Linked DNA regions of Homo sapiens. The protein of the gene in region 2 interacts with the protein of the main gene of each other region in a pairwise test. Each region holds a gene or a part of one and is shown on either strand. Other genes may lie near its edges. The genes, in order: CELF1 and ASB8.

The links.
Region 1: the proteins of ASB8 (region 2) and CELF1 interact in a two-hybrid assay, tested with the Homo sapiens proteins (one large-scale study listed by IntAct).

The regions. Positions count from the first base shown.
Region 1 is NC_000011.10:47,483,379-47,487,198, forward strand, and holds part of CELF1 (CUGBP Elav-like family member 1), read right to left. Parts: coding exon 3,781-3,820; intron 3,421-3,780; coding exon 3,372-3,420; intron 1,146-3,371; coding exon 1,011-1,145; intron 155-1,010; coding exon 75-154; intron 1-74. UniProt on the Homo sapiens protein: RNA-binding protein implicated in the regulation of several post-transcriptional events. Involved in pre-mRNA alternative splicing, mRNA translation and stability.
Region 2 is NC_000012.12:48,150,869-48,154,688, reverse strand, and holds part of ASB8 (ankyrin repeat and SOCS box protein 8), read left to right. Parts: intron 1-1,159; 5' UTR 1,160-1,192; coding exon 1,193-1,321; intron 1,322-3,023; exon of another isoform or gene 3,024-3,124; intron 3,125-3,383; coding exon 3,384-3,488; intron 3,489-3,820. UniProt on the Homo sapiens protein: May be a substrate-recognition component of a SCF-like ECS (Elongin-Cullin-SOCS-box protein) E3 ubiquitin-protein ligase complex which mediates the ubiquitination and subsequent proteasomal degradation of target proteins.

The DNA.
Region 1 (3,820 bases), on a different chromosome or scaffold from region 2:
GCTGGACTTTAATGGCCAACTGTCCCAGCATTCCCAAGCTGAGGAATTTTCCCCATCACCTATCTGCTCCCTACCTCCATGGTCTGTGCTTGGTGCATTGCCTTGATAGCCGTCTGTGCCATGGCTCTTGTTGTAAAAGTCACAAATGCACAACCTGGTAAGAGAAGAGTCAGTAACTCATGCATTCATTTATTTCTCTGACAAACATTAACTGAGCACCTACTATGTGCTGACTATCATGCTAGCAATACAGACACAGTCCCTGTTTTCAGGGAATCATGTGCTGGTATGTTGCAACAGGGTGATATGTGCTATAATGAAAAAACAGAACCACTGACAGAAAAAAAAAATGCTTGACAGGAGAAAGGAGGACTCATATCCTCTAGTTCCTCTTGAAAATAAAAGAAAATGGAAGAAGAAAGTATTTCCATTTTGGCATCAAGGATCTTGCAAAGCACCAAAAGAGAAAATTTTAATACATGACAATGAAATATAGAATGTAGACTCCTTAGAGGGGCTGGGAGACAAAAAGAATGAACTGATAGGAGGAGTCAAGACAGGACATAGATATACAGCAGGAAGCAGCAGGCCCAACCTCTTTATCTTGACTGGGCCATATTGGCTAGGGAATCACTGTTGCTAGTTTCCACCGGTCAAATTAAAAAGATTCCAAGCCCGGTGCAGTGGCTCACACCTACAATCCTGGCACTTTGGGAGGCCAAGATGACAGGATCGTTTGAGTCCAGGAGTTCAAGACCAGCCTGGGCAACACAGGGAGACCTTTTCTCTATAAAAAATTTAAAAATTAGCTGGGTGTCATGATGCATGCCTGTGGTCCCAGCTACTCAGGAGGCTGATCCTGGGAGGTTCAGGCTGCAGTGAGTTGTGAAGGCACCACTGCACTCCAGCCTGGGTGAGAGAGAGCAAGACCTTGTCTCCAAAAAAAAAAAAACCCCAAACCAAACCAAAACAAAAAACCAAAAGATTATTTAAAAGCTAAAACTACCTACCTCGGCTCAGGCCATCAGGTCCCCGCAATATCCGGCATTCTTCAATCTGTCCAAACGAAGAGAACATGACTCGGATGTCATTTTCAGTGCACTTCTTGGAAATCATACCAATAAACAGCTTCCTGTCTTCCACTGCTAAGAGAGTAAAACAGAAAAGACTTGAATATTACTACTTAAAGAGGCAATGTGGCACAGATTTGGGAGCCAGACCGCCTGGGTTTGAATCCTGGCTCTGTACCATATTTTACAGATTCAAAGACACACATTTGTTTTTTGTATTTTTCACATCTCTTTTTTTCTTGTTTTTGAGATGGAGTTTCGCTCTTGTTGCCCAGGCTGGAGTGTAATGGCGCGATCTCGGCTCACCGCAAGCTCCGCCTCCCGGATTCAAGTGATTCTCCTGCCTCAGCCTCCTGAGTAGCTGGGATTACAGGCATGCGCCAAAATGCCTGGCTAATTTTGTATTTTTAGTAGAGATGGGGTTTCTCCATGTTGGTCAGGCTGTTCTTGAACTCTCGACCTCAGGTGATCCACCCGCCTCGGCCTCCCAAAGTGCTGGGATTACAGGTGTGACCCACCACGCCCGGCTTCACGTCTCTTTTTATAACCAATGTTATCTTAAAATTATAATTAGAAGCATTTAGATGAAATATGGTAGCTTTGTAATCTTGTGAAAGTTACTCAACCATTCTGTGCCTGTTTCCTCATCTAACTAATAGGAATAATCAGGTTTACTTCAAAGGGTAGCAGTTGCTATTAAATGTGAAGTACTTGGCATCTTCCCTAGTCCTTTGTATTGTTTCCTCTTTTTGAGACAAGAGTCTCGCTGTCACCCAGGCTGAAGTGCGGTGGCATGATCATGGCTCACTACAGCCTTGACCTGCCGGGTTTAAGCAATCTTCCCACCTCAGCTTCCCGAATAGCTGGGACCACAGGTATGTACCACCACACCCAGCTAATTTTTTGCAGAGAGGTTTCACTCTTATTGCCAAGGCTGGTCTCAAACTCCTGGGCTTACGCAATCCTCCGGCCTCAGCCTCTTAAAGTGCTGTGATTACAGGTGTGCGCCACTGTGCCCAGCCAGCATTGTTTGCTCTTACTGGCAATACTACTAAAGAAAGAAGAGGTTTTCACACTTGATATGACAAGTGGAAGAGAATACACCTTTCAGTGAATGTAACTGTCTACTTTTCTGAATTTTTTTTTTTTTTGAGACAGAGTCTTGCTCTGTCACCCAGGCTGGAGTGCAGTGGCACGATCTCAGCATACTGCAACCACCGTCTCCTGGGTCCAAGCGATTCTCCTGTCTCAGCCTCCTGAGTAGCTGGGATTACAGGCATGCACCACCACACTCAGCTAATTTTTGTATTTTTAGTAGAGACAGGGTTTCACCATGTTGGCCGGGTGATCCGCCCGCCGTGCGCTCCCAAAGTGCTGGGATTACAAGCATGAGCCACCTCACCTGGTCCTGACTATCTTCTTGAGAATTAAGGCCAGGCGTGGTGGCTCACGCCTGTAATCCCAGCACTTTGGGAGGCCGAGGCGGGCGGATCACAAGGTCAGGAGATCGAGACCATCCTGGCTAACACAGTGAAACCCCGTCTCTACTAAAAATACAAAAAATTAGCCGGGCGTGGTGGCAGGCACCTGTAGTCCCAGCTACTCGGGAGGCTGAGGCAGGAGAATGCAGTGAACCCGGGAGGCGGAGGTTGCAATGAGCTAAGATCATGCCAGTGTACTCCCGCCCAGGCAACAGAGTGAGACTCCATCTCAAAAAAAAAAAAAAATTCGAGAATTAAGTTCTCCTTCCTAATTTGTTCATTTTGCCCCCTCATTCCTGTCCAAAAGAAATTATACTGACCAAGTATATTCCAGTTCATTCTACAATGTTCTTATAATATTTCTCTGTCAGCTCTGTTCTTCATCATACTTTTAAAGAAAAAACTGAGACAACTTAGACAACGGATTACTTAAAGCACAATTCAATTCAGATAACCTAAGAACAGCAAACAAACTAGGCAGAAATCTTTTTTTTTTTTGAGACAGAGTCTCACTCTGTTGCCTGGGCGGGAGTACACTGGCATGATCTTAGCTCATTGCAACCTCCGCCTCCCGGGTTCAAGAGATTCTCATGCCTCAGCCTCCTGAGTAGCTGGGATTACAGGCATGCACAACCATACCCAGCTAATGTTTGTATTTTTAGTAGAGACGGGGTTTCACCATGTTGGCCAGACTGGCTCGAACTCCGGCCTCAAGCAATCCATCTGTCTTGGCCTCCCAAAGTGCTGGGATTACAGGTGTGAGCCACCGTGCCTGGCCTAGGCAGAAATCTTAAGGGGAAGATTGTATACATTTGCTTACCATTGTTCTTCTCACTGTCAGCAGGTTTCATCTGTATAGGGTGATGCATCTGAAAAGGAAAAATATGATTATTATCACTGTATATATTGATGGTATTCAAAAATACATATGGACTCTAAAATACCAGAACTAGAGCTTTAAAGAGTTCTCTCTGAACTCATGTCTGCTTCATGATCTTTCCCCAGAAAACAGAATGTGAGTCAAGAAGTCAAAATACACAAGACTCTTGACTGAGAGAGAACTAATGTCAGGTAATCTCTGAACTGCTCCCTTTATGTCTTCCTTTACATCAATTCCTGCAGCAGTTACCTTTTCCCCAAAATGGTTTTCAGTGTGTGTCTGATATGTGTAAGTATATCCCACATATCAAAGTTACCACATTTCCATTTACTAGTGGGAGCTTTCTTACCCCTGGGAGGACTTTCATGTTGTGAAGAGCATTCTGAGCT
Region 2 (3,820 bases):
TGGGATTACAGGTGTGAGCCACCACGCCCCACCTTTAACTCATTTTAAAATCTGCAAATTTTCCTAAAACTGAAAGTACATTTTATTATTCTGAATTTTAATTTTTTCCTAGTTTTATATAAATGACTCCAGGGTAGTTATACTTTTGCTTTCCTTACCTATTTTAGAATACTACCTCAAATATTTCCTTTTTTTTTTTTTTTTTTTTGAGATAGAGTCTCACTCTGTTGCCCAGGCTGGAGTGCGGTGGCCCGATCTCGGCTCACTGCAAGCTCTGCCTCCCAGGTTCACGCCATTCTCCTGCCCCAGCCTCCCAAGTAGTTGGGACTACAGGCGCCCACCACCACGTCCAGCTAATTTTTTTGTATTTTTTGTAGAGACGGGGTTTCACTGTGTTAGCCAAGATGGTCTGGATCTCCTGACCTTGTGATCCACCCATCTCGGCCTCCCAAAGTGCTGGGATTACAGGCATGAGCCACCACGCCCTGCCAAATATTTCCTTTTTTTCCTCTTCTGAACACATTTGAAAATGTTTCAGATAACTTTTCATTATTAAGATATATTTGCTCCATAGCCTTCTTCCTCTCTTTTCACACATAACAATCACTTCTATACTGTTTAGTCAGTCGACCAACCAATATTTGTTAAATACCTACCTTTTGTGAGATTCTGTGGCTGGCCTTACATGGGTGAAAAAGTAGAAGACAAAGTCCTTGCCTTCCAGTTGATTACAGTTTCGATGGAGAAACAATATGTACATAACTATATTGCAAGGCCCAGTGTTATAAATAACTTAATGGTGGTGCTGATCATAAAAACCACAAAAATTCAAAGAAGGAAAATAATGTTTTTTGACCTCTTCAGCCTTTTAAAAATCCTATTCCTTGCCTAGTCGTTTGTAAACCACACAGAGCTCCACGGGGGTCTTAGTACCTCTTGGGGAAATCTCGTGCTAGACTAGGTTAGAGTAGAACATTTGTGTCCAGGTTTATCCAACTCCCTAGGCAACTATTATAATCCAATTCCTTATGATTATGGAAATAGTATTAATCACTCCTTGAAATCTGCTTTTAGCATTGGGAAGGCCTCAGAGAAGACCTAACCCTAAAGACAGGTGTGCTCAGTGATATTGTATATGCCGAAAACTTCTTTGTTTCAGGCAGTTTGGAGCATGTGAACACCTTGAGCCTTGATGAGTTCCAGTATGTGGTATATTATGCAGAGCATTCAGAGCAAATACTCTCTCTCCGAGCGCTTAATCCGAACAATTGCTGCCATCCGTTCCTTCCCACATGATAATGTAGAGGACCTCATCAGAGGGGTGAGTGTGCTGGTATTGACAGGAGAGTCCTTGCGATATGAAGTGGGCAAAATCCTCATGGATCACAGATTTGCAGCTTTGACTCAACCCAAGATCACAGGGAGTTTTTACATTTTGCTAACTGCATTAACTTGATCATTAAAATGTATTTCCCCTATGTTTGCTTCGCTTCCCTTCTCCCTTTCACTTTGTGTATCTGATATTTTTCTTCATGGAATATGTTCTCAATAACCCTAGTCTCATGTTCTTTGTAAAATATCTGAGTACGATGCATATGTAATCCATTGAGCTCAAAGTCTTCTATACATGTTTTATTAAGGGAGGAGGTGAGCAAAGCAGAGGTGGTTTTTATTTTTATTTGTTGAGACAGGGCTTCACTTTTGTCACCCAGGCTGGAGTGCAGTGGCACAAACATGGCTTACTGCAGCCTTGACCTCCTGGGCTCAAGCGATCCTCCCACCTCAGCCCCCTCAAGTAGCTGGGACTACAGGCACATGCCACCCATGTCCAGCTAATTTTTTTTTTTTTAATTTTTTGTAGAGATGGTGTTTCACCATGTTTCCCAGGCTGGTCTTGAATTCTCATGCTCAAGCAACCCACCTGCCTTGGGTTCCCAAAGTCGTGGGATTAGAGGTGTAAGCCACTGTGCCTGGCTACAGAGGTGGTTTTTAAATCCTTGTGAGCCTTTCTTCATACCTGGGTTACAATAATTACATGGAGAGATTTTTTACTTACATTCTATGTTAAAAGCAGCTACCACTTCTAGCTCTGTAGAGGATATCAACCTCTAAAATGCATGGTAATTATAGTTTAAGAAAACACCTTAACCATCGGATGTTTAATCATGGCCCTTCAATAATTGTTATGTGACTAGTATCCTAGAAGGTCTTTACTATCCTCTTCTATTTATTTTTCTTGTTGAAGAGAAGTTACACAGTTTTTGATCACCAGAAAATGCATCCAGATGGTTACTTGTGTATATTCTAAGACTTCAGGCTCGTCATTTACAGCCTAGATCTCTGTAGCTGCTTCAGAGTTATTGGACACAACTGAAGAAGGAAAAGTCATGCAGTGTTAGCTTATTGTCAGCAAAAGTAGTGTCAGGAGACTCCGCGGTAGAAACCTTGTAACATTCTAATTCTAGCTCTGCTGCTGAGTCATTCAGTGACTTTGGTCTGACTGGTATCTCCATCTCCCTTGATTTTTTTTTTTTTTTTGAGACGGAGTTTCGCTCGTCGCCCAGGCTGGAGTGCAATGGCGCGATCTTGGCTCACTGCAACCTCCGCCTCCCAGGTTCAAGCGATTCTCCTGCCTCAGCCTCCCGAGTAGCGGGGATTACAGATGCCCGCCACCACACCCAGCTAGTTTTTGTATTTTCAGTAGAGACCGGGTTTCACCATGTCGGCCAGGATGGTCTCAAACTTCTGACCTCAGGTGATCTGCCCACCTCAGCCTCCCAAAGTGCTGGGATTACAGGTGTGAGCCACTGTACTCGGCCTCTCCTTTGATTTTGAATAGAAGCACCAGCAAAGGCTAGATGGTAAAGAATACTGATACTAAGAGGCTACTTTGAAGATGTTTATAAAAAAGGAAAAACCGTGTTAAGATGATGCCACTATTAATGATGGTCATTTGTTGAATGGACAAAAGAGCATGCCATTTCTGGCCTCAGTCTGACAGACTCACTTTCCTACTTTTCCAGAGCATGGTGGCCATAGAAAGTGGATTGCTGGTCCAGCTTTCCTGCCTGATGATAAGGTTTCCAGTGCTTTGATACATAAGATTGTCTTCAGTGATGTCCAGGTGACCATCTGGCAGCCTCCCTTGTGGAGAAACTTAGTAACTTGATCTAAGGAATTAACAGTTCCTTTCCTTCATCTTCAGTGTACTCCTTTGGTTTGGACATTGACATAATATTAATAGAAAAGGAAACAGGAACTAGCACTGTATCTATAAAATAGTGAGAGTTAGAACTCTCTGTCCCCTGGACTCAGTTCTGAATTCTGTCCTGCTGGGCAAGCCAGAGCTGAACACACTGACTGAAGTTGTCTTCTGCCCACAGGGAGCAGATGTGAACTGCACTCATGGCACACTGAAGCCCTTGCACTGTGCCTGTATGGTGTCAGATGCTGACTGTGTGGAGTTACTTCTGGAAAAAGGAGCCGAGGTAATGTTTTTAACACATTCACATTAATGACTCACTAAAACTTGAGCTTCATGTTTTCTTAGAATTTCTCCCCATCACTCCTCCATCTCTTCCCTCCTCCAGTCTGAACTTCTAACTCAAGGTAATGTTGGCATAGCCAATATTAAGGAAAATGTAATGGTAAATATATAAAATGATCTAAGGATTTCATTCTTTTACCTTTCTGTCCCCACCCTGCTTGCCCCCATTGTATGGTGCTGATACTCTGCCTTTCTTTCTTCTCCTTAACTTAAGCTGTCACTGGCCATCACTTCAGGAAGCTTACCTTGTAGGGGCTGTTTATATTTCCGTTT